2 separate regions of the Homo sapiens genome follow, and region 2 is linked to region 1. The links come from fine-mapping of genetic effects on gene expression. Tissue or cell type: lung. Region 1 holds a variant in brackets; the other region holds the start of a gene. All regions are shown on one strand. Distances are between the middles of the regions.

Region 1 (6,219 bases):
GTCTCGCTCTGTCTCCCAGGCTGGAGTGCAGTAGCACAATCTCAGCTCACTGCAACCTCCGCCTCACAGGTTATAGCGATTCTCCTGTCTCAGTCTCCAGACTAGCTGGGATTACAGGCGTGTGCCACCACACCTAGCTAATTTTTGTAGTTTTAGTAGAAACCAGTATCAAATTAATAATTTTTTTTTGAGACAGAGTCTCACTCTGTGTCACCCAGGCTGGAATGCAGTGGCACAATCTTGGCTCACTGCAGCCTCCACCTCCTGGGTTCAAGCGATTCTCCTGCCTCAGCCTCCTGAGTAGCTGGGACTACAGGCACAGCACTACAATGCCCAGCTAATTTTTGTATTTTTGTTAGAGACGGGGTTTCACCATGTTGGCCAAGCTGATCTTGATCTCCTGTTCTAAGCTGATCCGCCCACCTCGGCCTCCCAAAGTGCTGGGATTACAGGTGTGAGCCACCACACCCGGCCCCAAATTAATAATTTATTTTAAAAAATACAGTTTACCAACATTGACTAAAGTAGAGTTTAGAAAACTTAAACCAACTTTTATAGAAAAAACATTGTATCAAGGCTATACCCCCCAAAAAGGTACCAGGAGCAGAAGTTTTCACAAGGAAATTTGACCAAACTATCAATAACCAGAGAGACCCGATGTTACAAAAATTGTTTCAAAACATAAAACATGAAGGAAAATTGTCAAAAATCATTGTATGAAGCAAGTATAATATTGATACCTAAATTTGATTGTCAAAAATTTAAATAAAATTACAGACCAATATAGCTTATAAATACTAATGCAAAAATAGTAAATATTTACAAGCAAATAGAATTCATCACCATACTGTGAAAATAATACATAATGACCAAGCAGAGTTTATTCCAGGAATGCAATGTATCATAAATATAAGAAATTCATGAATATAAAGTAAGCACACAAACACACCATGATTCTGTAGCCACAGTTTTATTTTATACAAAAACACTACAGAAACGTGCAAGACTTGTACCAAATATCCTATTGGGTGCACAGACCAGGACTATTCAATGTAGAGAGGTCTGTACAAAGGAGTAATTACATGGAGATGGGATTATTGAGACCATTTTGGAACGTTTGCAAAACGTATCACAGATAAAAAGCTATTATCTTTAATATATTTAACAACTTAAAAGGGGGAAATAACTAAAGCCTTAATAAAACAATGAGTTAAAGGCACAAGCCAAAAATTCATTAAAAAGGCATACAATAGTCCTTAATCATATGAAACTATTTTAATTTTACTCATAATAAAAGAAATGCAAATAAAATGACACTGAGATACCATTTCTCTTCTATCACATTGGCAAAAAGTTTAAAAGCTTGGCAACACATTCTGTTGGCAAGGCTTGTGAGGCACTCTCATTCATTGCTGGTGGGAATGTAAATGACACAACTCTTACGTTGGGGGAATTTGGCAATCTCTAACAAATTGTATGTGCATTTTTCTTACAACTCAGCAATCTCAAATCTAGAAACTTACCCTGAATATATATCTCCAACAATAAGAAAAGACATTTGCATTAGGTTATTCATAGCAGCCTTATTTATAAATGCAAAATATTGGAAGTGACCTAAATATCTATATATAAAAGATTGATCAAGTAAATTCTGATGCATACACACAATGGAATGCTATGCATTTGTAATAAAGAATAAAGGATAGCTCTATGAGCTAATATGAAATAAGTTCAGCATATATTGATAAGTGACAAATGCAACATGCAAATATACATATATTTCAAACATGTCTATGTAAAAGTAGTTAATTACAAAGGGAAAAATGGTTATCGGCAGACTCGCCTTAACCAAGTGACCTAGGTTAACAGCTTCAGTAACGGTATAAATTGGTATCATGGTCCCCTTGATATGATGTTCTGAGACCACAATATTATCTTTATATTTCTGCCAAAAAATTATGATCATAAAAAAATCAGACAAACCTAAACTTAGAAGCCATCTACAAAATAAAACGTTAAAGACATGAAAAATAAAGAATCCTGAGGGTCTGAGATAATGAAAGGAAACAAAAGAGGCTTAAGCAGAATCCTGAATTGAAGGGAGAAATATCAATCTATAATACCAATATTAAGGTGATTGGCAAAAGTTGAACATAGATAATGGATTAGATAATAATACTGAATCAATGTTAAACATCCTGATTCCATACTTATACTTTTGTTATTCCTCGTTGATGTTTTTAGGGAAAACACTGAAATAACAAGAAGTAAATAAATATATATATATATATATATATATATATATATATATATATATATATAATGCCTGTAACTTACTTGCAAACAGTTCTTTAAAAGTATAAAAAATGAATGTATGTGTATACATATTACATATATAATATATATAATATAAAATATTATATATTATATATATATGTAACAGGGTCTTGTTTTGTCACTCAGGCTGGAGTGAAGTGGCATGATCATGGTACACCATAGCCTTGACCTCCAGGCTCAAGCAATCCTCCCACCTCAGCCTCCAGAGTAGCTGAGACCACAGATGCACACCACTAAGCCTAGCTAATTTTTTAAATTTTTGTAGAAA[T/C]GAGGTCTCACTATGTTACTTAGGCTGGTCTCATACTCCTGGACCAAAATGATCCTCCCACATCAGCCTCCCAACGTGCTGGGATTAGAGGTATGAACCACCACTCCCAGCCAACAAATACTTTTTAAATGTGGATCTCTGTTTGACAATAATATGAACAAAGTAAAGTACTTGAAATGTCTAAAATTCATAAGTTATTGACTGTATGTGAAAGGAATTCAAAGCAACAAGAAAAGAGCAATCCCAGTAGAATAAAAGACAAAAGCAATTTACAGAGGAGGAAACCCCAAAAGTTATCAAACATAATAAGGTGCTCAGAATCATCGTTAATTTGATAAATTCACATTTAAAAAACAATGAGACAGCACTTCACCTCTAACTCACAAACATTAGAAGTCTGAATAATTCTTGGAGTTGGTAGAAATGTAGGGATGTAAACCTTTAAGCATTGCTAACAGGTATACATGGAATAGAAACCAGTATAGCCATTCCAGATAACAAATGAGCACTACTTCATTAACTTAAATATATGTCTGCTGTTAAAAAATAAAAAAGTCACTGGATATATTTAAAATGACAAGAAAGACCTTATTCAATACTATTGCAATAGCACAGAGAGGCTGAATTCAACTCCACTGAAACAAAAGGCAGTAAGATTCTTAAACGCTGGGAGGAGCTAATAGAAAACTACTAGAGAGTACTAAAGGACATCAGTGTAGGGAGGGTGGCCAATGTGATTAGGTCATCTGTGTTTGCTAATTGTCACTTTCCAAGGGTAGGCTTTTCAAGAGTAGGCTTCTACCCTCCCATAGAGACTGAGAAATGTGGTTCTATTGCCTTCAATGATTATATCTCAACAGGCTGACTCCAAGATCCTTGAGCAAGACTTTTCTGGGTTGTAGAAGATTTACATATTCTATAGGGAAAAACTTGATAATTAGAATTAAGAATTTAAACAGAAAGAATTTACACGTGGGTGCAGTAGCTTATGCCTGTAATTCCAGCACTTTGGTAGGCCAAGGCAGGTAGATCACTTGAGCCCAGGAGTTTGAGACCAGCTAGGGCAACATAGTGAGACCCTGTGTCTACAAAAAAAATTTTTTTTAATAGCCAGAGTAGTCTCAGCTACTCCAGAGGCTGAGGTGGGAGGATTGCTTGAGCCCACGAGATGGAGGTTGCAGTGAACCCTGATCCTGCCACTGCACTCTAGCCTGGCTGACAGAGCAAGACACTATCTCAGAAAAGAAAGAAAGAGCAAAAGAGAAAGAAAGAGCGAAAGAGAGAAGAAAGGAAGGAAGGAAGGAAGGAGGGAGGGAGGGAGGGAGGGACGGAGGGGGAAAGAGAGAAAGAGACAGAAAGAAAGAAAGAAAAAGAAAGAGAGAGAGAGAGAAAGAGAGAAAGAGAAAGAAAAGGGAAAGAAAGAATTTACAATTGCATATTTTCTCAAGTAAATACTCTAAGCAAAAGGAGGTCAGGGATCTATAGTCAGGGAGAAATCAGTCTAAATTTTAGTCAAGCTGAGAAGAACATTAAGTCTGTCTTGGTCAATGCCTATTAGCAATTTAATTCCTGGAGATGGATGAATAGATGGATAAGTAGATGATTAACAGATGGATGGATAGATATGTAGACAGATAGGCGAATATGTACAAGTATGTTCACTGGCACTATTTTTAGGACCAGGATCAGGAAGTTGGAGTCCACCAAGGTGCCTATCTCTGGGAGAATGGATAGGCAAAGTATGATGGATATACAATTATGTAGGTTAAATATAAATTGCCTTGCATCAGTTCCCTCAGCCCAGTTCTGACACCAGCTGTAGCTTTTCACACTGACAGCTTTCCACCTCAACCTTCTGTAGCATGTCTATTAACTTTTCACACTTTGAACTTTCACTCAAACTGTGGGAGCTTGCTCTGCCCACACAAATTGTACACTAGCTCTTGAAGCTTCTGTCTGGAAGTAAATTATAACATTTCATTGTGGTAGCGTGATCAGACCCAACACCAGGTCATTGGGGTGATGAAGTCCAGTGGAGTCAAAGGAATGAGAAAAGACAGTTTGAGAGATAAAGTGGGTCCAGGGGGCCAACGTGAGTATGGAGGCTGTGAAGGCCCAGAGTTCTGGAAGCCCAGACTATTTATTGGTGATCAAACAAAGAAACAGGTGGTGAGAATGTGGGGTTGAAAGGGAGCACTGCGTTAAGCACCTGATTTACAGTTGTGATGGTTTAGCATTTATATGGCCAATTCCAAGACACAATCAATCTAGGAGACTGGGAGGGCTAGAAGCAAGGAGCCAGCAAGTCTAGACACACTCCAAAGCCATGAGGGGGTTCATGCCCTGAGCCCTGGATTCTATCCAACCCACGAGGGGTTTTATGCCCTGGGCTTAGATTATGGTGCGTCAGGGTAGCCTTCCACCCTTTAGCACAGAGCTTGGTGTTCCAAAGGCCATGAGGGGTTTTAGACCCTGGACCCTGGACATGTTTCAAGACTCTTTTACATTATGTCAGACATGCAAGCCCTGCCTCAGCTTCTCCCAATACTCAGCTTTCCTCTCAACATGCCCCCCTTTTCTTTTTCATAAAACCACCACAGCTATCATTGCTTGTTCTTGATGACGGCTTTCTCTTCAGAGGCAGCTTCCTCTTCAGAGGTGGCTTCTGCATCTGTAAACTAAAAGGAGACAGCACAAGCACACAACCACCAGAACAAAATCCACAAATGTAGAGCCTCCAATGGCCTTCAACTGTAAATCTTTTGGAACGGGATAAGAGTTTTTAAGGATCTCAGTTACAATACAAATAGATGGTGATGTCTCCCATGGTCTATTTAGAGACACAGGGATCCAAACTCCTTCCCTGGCTTTAATTATCAAGACAGTTTGATTTTTATCAAAGGTTGAATCAAGGCAGGTAAACAAGCAACATTCAGGGCATGTAATAAAGTGTGTATTTATATCAAGAGTAACATTTCCTATTGCTAGCACAACTGTGAATCCAAAAGGTCCCACTGGAGAGAAAAGAAAGAGCATTTTTATCCTTACCTCCCTCCCCTCTGTTCATTTTATACTTTCCCTCTCAGATTTTGACTGGACTTTGAGCCATAGCTAATTTCCATAATTCAGAATATTCCTGTCTGTCCCTGCAAATCTCTGCTAGTCTTTGCTAGTCTCTACGTTTGTACCTCTTTAGGGCACTGACCAGTACCTCTCTAGAGCACTGACCGTATATTGCTAGTCTTTGCTTTTGTACATCTTTAGGGCACTGATCAGTATCTCTTTAGGGCACTGACCTTATATTGTTAGTCTTCATCTATCCCTGCCTGTCCCTGTCTGTCCCTATGATACCTGTTAGTTCCTGTGAGTTCCTGCAAGTCCCTGTCTATCTATCTCTATTTATCTCTATCTCTACTTACTTATCTCTACATCTTCCTGGAAACCTTTTTTATGGCCCTGGGTAGAGCTCAGAAATCCACACTTCAAGCTTCAGCAAGAGACAAAACAGGGACCCCGGATCTGGAACCAGATTGAAGGGAACAGGAAGTGTTCTCCCCTCCCAAAGCAGGAAAACCAGAGTTTGGTCCTTGCAAATTTCTACTCCACATCAGCAT
Region 2 (5,575 bases), 110 kb after region 1:
ACACCACACCACACACACCACACCACACACCACACACCCAGCCTTCCTAGGAAACTTCTATTCATGCTTCAGCCATCATTTCACCAGTGCCACTTCTTCAGGAAAGCCTTTCCTAAAGATCACCCTCTCTGACTTCAGCAGGCCTCCCTGCTATATTCAAGCACCATGTATTTTCCTTTCATAAGTACACATCATCAATTTGAATTTTGTGTTCATTTGCGCATCATTTATTTATGTTAATCTCCCCACTACACACCATCAGTTCCATGAGAACAGGGTCTGCGGTGACCTCCCACATTTTTCTAGCACTTAACACAAAGCTTGGCACACAGAAGATAAGTATTCAACAAAAGAAAAGCATTTACCAAAAGCTGACAATGCGCCAGGACCTCCGTAAATAAGAGTTTGGCATTGTGTTATGTGCTTCTGCAGGAGTGAGTCTCACCTTTAAAAACCTTAGAGTCTAACGGGAAACACAACACATACAGAAGTCACCATCTGACACTGCAGACGGTCAGCAACGCCTAGACAGAGTGCCCTGTGAGTTCTGAGAAGGTGGAGATCAACTGACTCTTGATGATGACAATCCAAAAAGACTTTACAAAGGAGCAGTGGCTTAAGGGTACCCAGACTCCAAAGTGCCAGTTCTAACAAAAAAATTGGGTGTTGGCTGTTACTTTTTGGGCCCAGAAGCCTGGCCTAAGGCAAAGTCTACAACAGGTCTGTAAATCATTCTTTCATTCATTTATTCATTGCTCAGGTTTTTATTAAATACCTAGTAGGTGCTAGGCACTAGTCTAGATACTGAAAATCAACGAACATATCAGCAAGCTGACATTCCTTCTAAAGAGGCCCCCTATAGCAACAAAGTGTTAACCAGTGTCCTCCTCACTCCTCTGTGACCAGGGCCACCGTGTCACCTCCTCTAACGGAGGCTACACCTTATCGTTTAACAAATGACCTTCATCTTCCCAGCATCTCCCTTAGTTTGGCTTCCGGGTTGCATATGGAGTTCAATGTCCCGTGGCTGCTAACCAAGGCAAATTGCAACTGTTGCAAATTTTGCTTATGAAAACCGAAGGGGACCTTCAAAGATCATCTGGTACAACCCCTTCATCTTATAGATGTGGAAACTAAGGCCTAGAGAAAAGACCCTCAGCCAAGGTCACCCAGAGAACTAACCACGCATAGAACCAGATCAGAGTCCAGGAGTCCTGCCTCCCAGGCCTGGGCGCTTTCGATTTTTCAAAGACATTTCCCATTTTCCTATTATCAGGACCCACAATCCTAGAAACAGTCTTTGGGATTCAGGGCTCCTCAGTATTGAGGAAGAGTTCATTATCTGTATTGAAATCGGTTGTAGTAATACAAACAACAATAACATTTTAGAGCCCTAACTAAACATCAGTAGCAGTGAGAAAAAGAAAAATAGCTCAGAGCAGATTGTGTGAGTTACAGTGAAATATGCAAAATCAATCAAGCCCAGAGAGACAAGAGTATAGGACTTTAGTGGTCCCCTCCTCACCCAACCCATTCCTGGGAGCAACTGGTTAAAGGCATTTTGTTCCTGACCAGCTGCCTTACCCATTATCTTCAAGTTCCTGGAATTTGTGATACAAAGAACAATGTACAGACAATCAATAGTTTATGTTATTTTAATATAAATTCTTGGTAAACAACTTAGGAAGTGCTTCTTATTCTCCTTTAAAAACCCACTTTCGACTTCTGCTCATCAGAATGTATACTCAGGGCACCTTCACTCCCAGGATGCAGCCCTCAAACTTGGCTCGAATGAACTCTCTTTTTATATTGATTTTGCCTCAGTTTCTTCATTTAGGTCACAACTGTGCTAAGCACTTTACACAAGTTACCTCATTTGGATCCTCACAACAACTCTATGAGTCGGTACTATTATTTTCCCCATTTTACAGATTAGCAAACTAAGGCACAAAGAGAGTAAGCAACCTGCACGATGTCCCACAGCTGTTTAATAAGGAGCAGCGGATGGGGCAGCAGAACCATCATGCTGAGTAAACCAGGATGACTGCCCAATGGCCTCCCCTCGCTTTTAAGGGGTCAGTGATGAACCGGAAAGCTCCACACGTCGGTCATCTGCAACTCCACGGAGCTCACGAGCTGGGATTCCCGGAGGCTCTTCCTAAAAGGAAAGCCTCTTCTTTCAGCTGGGGCAGGTGTGAACGTGATGCCAAGCACGGCCCCTTTTCCCGCTCCCTGTAAAGGGAGTCTTCGAGGAAATCCCTCTCGACCCACACATCCCTGAAGCAAAGCCCGCAGCTGGAAAGAGACACTGGCGGTGCCAGCTTCCGCGTGGATGAAGGAGAGGAGAGAGGGGCAAGCAGCGGAGGCAGCGCGGGATACGGAAGGTGGAAGCGGGGCGGTACCTTTCGGAGAAAGCTGGCGACCACCTGCTCGAAGGGGTACTTGTACACCTGGTGCACATCCACCGAGACCCCCATCCCCGCGCGCCGCGGGCCCCGCGCACCGGCCACGCCTCCGCGAGCTCAGAGCTGCCCAGGGCTCCGCAGAGGCCCGGAGGCGCCCACACTCGGACAGCCACATGGGCGTGGCCTTTTTCCTCCGCTTTTCAAACTTTCGAAACTTTATTGGCCACTCGGAGAAACGCGCAGTCGGCCACGCCCACGCCCCTACTGCCAGAGTCCGGGGCCTGGGGTTACAGAGCGCGGGAGGCGCTGGAGCGCTCCCAGAGCACCCGGGGCCCCGCGGTCTCCACGCTGGCGGCGCCAGAGCGGCCCTGGTGCCCTCCCGCGGCCGCGCCTGCCGAGAAAAGCTTCTCTGCCTGGGAGCCATCACGCCCCGCCCCAGGAAACCTGGACCTTGGGCTTATGCGTTTATGGTATCACCGCCTGGAGTCACAGAATAAGCCGTGGTTGGCAGCACGGGAAAAAAGTATTAATAAGGAAGGCCTGGTGTGACAAAGGCCAGCATTACTCATGCCACCAGGCAGCTGCCTCTGAGGCTTGGGTTTGGGCCTCGTGTAAGGTAAAGATTGCCTCGGGAATAAGAACCGCGTTTTAGTGCACCAAAACCTGCAGGTAAGTTCCTTTGCTCGCTAAGGTTAAACACCACGGAGCAAGGAACTAGAGGATACAAAAGAGTTGCGAGTATTATTATTTACTGCAACCAACAGATGTTAGGAGAACCAGCACGTTAATCCGTGTATTCAGCACGGTTCTGAGGCCTCCTATGCCCCAGCGCTGTAGTGGGCACTGCGGATTCCGCAGGGAGGAAACACCAGCTCTGCTGATGAGCCGGCTGATTTCACACCCAATCAACAAGCTGGGAAAATAAAAACAATAATCGGTTAAAGTGACACGGGCGCGGACATGATTTTAGTGAGGGTGATTATGGAGGGTCTCTGAGGTGATGACTTTTACGATTTTGCCATCTCGCTCGCCCCTGCCATACGCAGTCACACTGGTCTGGCAAAACCCTAGCCTTGTGTAAATCTAGGTCTCCTCTGACTGTCTCTACCCAAGCCACCAGAAGGGGCTGAAGGAAAATACACACCCACTGTGCATCTTTTAAGTTCATAACCACTAACCCTATGGCGCCTTTTAATGGTGCCAGACAAATACACTATGAAAGTACTGTATTTCTGGCTGGGTGCGGTGACTCACGCCTGTAATCCCAGCACTTTGGGAGGCCAAGGTGGGCGGATCGCCTGAGGTCCGGAGTTCCAGACCAGCCTGGCCAACATGGTGAAACCCTGTCCCTACTAAAAATACAAAAATTAGCCAGGCGTGATGGCGGGCGCCTGTAGTCCCAGCTACTCCGGAGGCTGAGGCAGGAGAATCGCTTGAACCCGGGAGACGGAGGTTGCAGTGAGCAGAGCTCGCCCATTGCACTCCAGCCTAGGCGACAAGAGCAAGACTCCATCTCAAAAAAAAAAAAAAAAGAGAGTACTGAATTTCTCTAATCCACTTACTCTCCCGCATTCCTCCACACCTCTGACACCTTTGTTCCCAGCCTTATACTCCAGTCATTACCTTACTTCCATTTTCACTTAGTCAATAGGTCACATCGCTCTGCCACCTCTCTACCCACCAGACCAAATGCCTTGCCTTCACTCTTGTTCCTGTGGGTGAACTGTCAGCACTTTGTTTTAGCACCAGTGTCTCCATTTGTCCACTGAATCCTGAGGTGAACTGAAAAATGTTTAACAAATAGCTGTCCTTTAAAGTATAAATCAAGCAAGGCCCTGATTTCCAAAGGTTGCTGATTCCTGTGGTGTAAATACTCCTACCATGTTTAAAGATGCCAACTCGATGTCACTAAACACAAGTTGGGGATTTAGCAACATGGAGTTGAGTGAGGAGTGGGAGTTGGGGAGGGAAGCACAGAAGCACACCATCACATAGTATTTCCACCACCCACATACGACAGCCATAAAGAACCAAAAACATAAATAATGGAAAATGTAGCAGGAAGGGATGAGTTTTCAATGTTTATTACTCTTTGGCCAGGCTCCTATGGTTCATGCCTGTAACCTCAGCACTTTGGGAGGCCAAGGCAGAAGGATCACTTGAGGCCAAGAGTTTGAGGCCAGTGTAGGCAACATAGTGAAACCCCATCTCTACAAAAAATAAAATAAAAAATTAGCCAGGTGTGGCAGTGCACACCTGTAGTCCTAGCTACTTGAGAGGCTAAGGCCAGAGGCTCTATTAAATCCGGAAGTTCAAGGCTGTAGTGAACTATGATCGTGCCATGCACTCCAGCCTGGGCCACAGAGTGAGACCCATCTCAAATAAATAAATATTTATTAATTTTTATATGTGATTGTAAATTTATATACTTTAATAATAGCTGTGTTGAATGGCCAGCTCTAGTACATCACTAAAAGTTCCTGTCCTCTTTCTTGTTCAAGGCCATCTCTCTAGCAATATCCCCCTTCCTTTCTGTATCATCAGCTTTTGTCTCTACTGGGCCATTCCAGCCAGCACAACAAGTACACTGTAATTTCTTCCATCTAAAAACAAAAACAGAAACAATACAAAAAAAACAACTCTTAACCCCCTATCTTCCTCCAGCTGTATTCCGAGTCTCTGGTCCACTGATGCTCCTCAAAAGAGCTGCCTGTAATCTCTTGAGCCCATTCCAATCAGTATTTGCCCCCACCACTTCACCGAAACGACTGTTGTCAAGGTCACCAATGACCAAATTGCTAAATCCAATAATTAATTCTTAATCCCCACCTTACTAAGCCTGTAAGCAGCATTTCCTTGAAATACAGAGGGAGGAGTGGAGAGGAGAATGAGATGCAAATGCTCTTACATGTGTTGGATGCATGTTTAAAAGCCACTCCACTATATCACCAATCCCTCCTTACAGGAAAACAAAAAGCAGTCTTCCAGGGAGACTACACAGGTCCACAAAGGAGAGATCAATTACCTGCAGAGTTTATGGTATTTTGTATCTGCCTCTTTTACCAGAGTAGCTGGAGACCAGATGTGACATACAAACCCCCTGCTAGCGTAGGTCCTGGGCCCTGTATCCTCAATCCACTCTGACCATCAGTTTCTCCCAGAGTGTATCT

What was found. PIP is the estimated chance that this variant, and not a neighbour inherited with it, causes the effect.
Region 2: it holds the start of PRELID2, and the variant in region 1 is the best candidate, but not a certain one, in a credible set for the expression of PRELID2 in lung (TOPMed, PIP 0.67).

The regions. Positions count from the first base shown.
Region 1 is chr5:145,722,326-145,728,544 of GRCh38, forward strand. It overlaps a transcript of PRELID2 not described here. Among named protein-coding and RNA genes, the nearest start is that of PRELID2, 110 kb to the right of the region's middle. The variant T/C (reference allele first, on the strand shown) is at 2,606.
Region 2 is chr5:145,832,775-145,838,349 of GRCh38, forward strand. It overlaps PRELID2 (PRELI domain containing 2), which reads right to left and starts at 2,568. Exons shown (of 7, transcript NM_205846.3): 1 at 2,403-2,568. The coding sequence starts at 2,477. RefSeq lists a silencer at 2,760-2,879.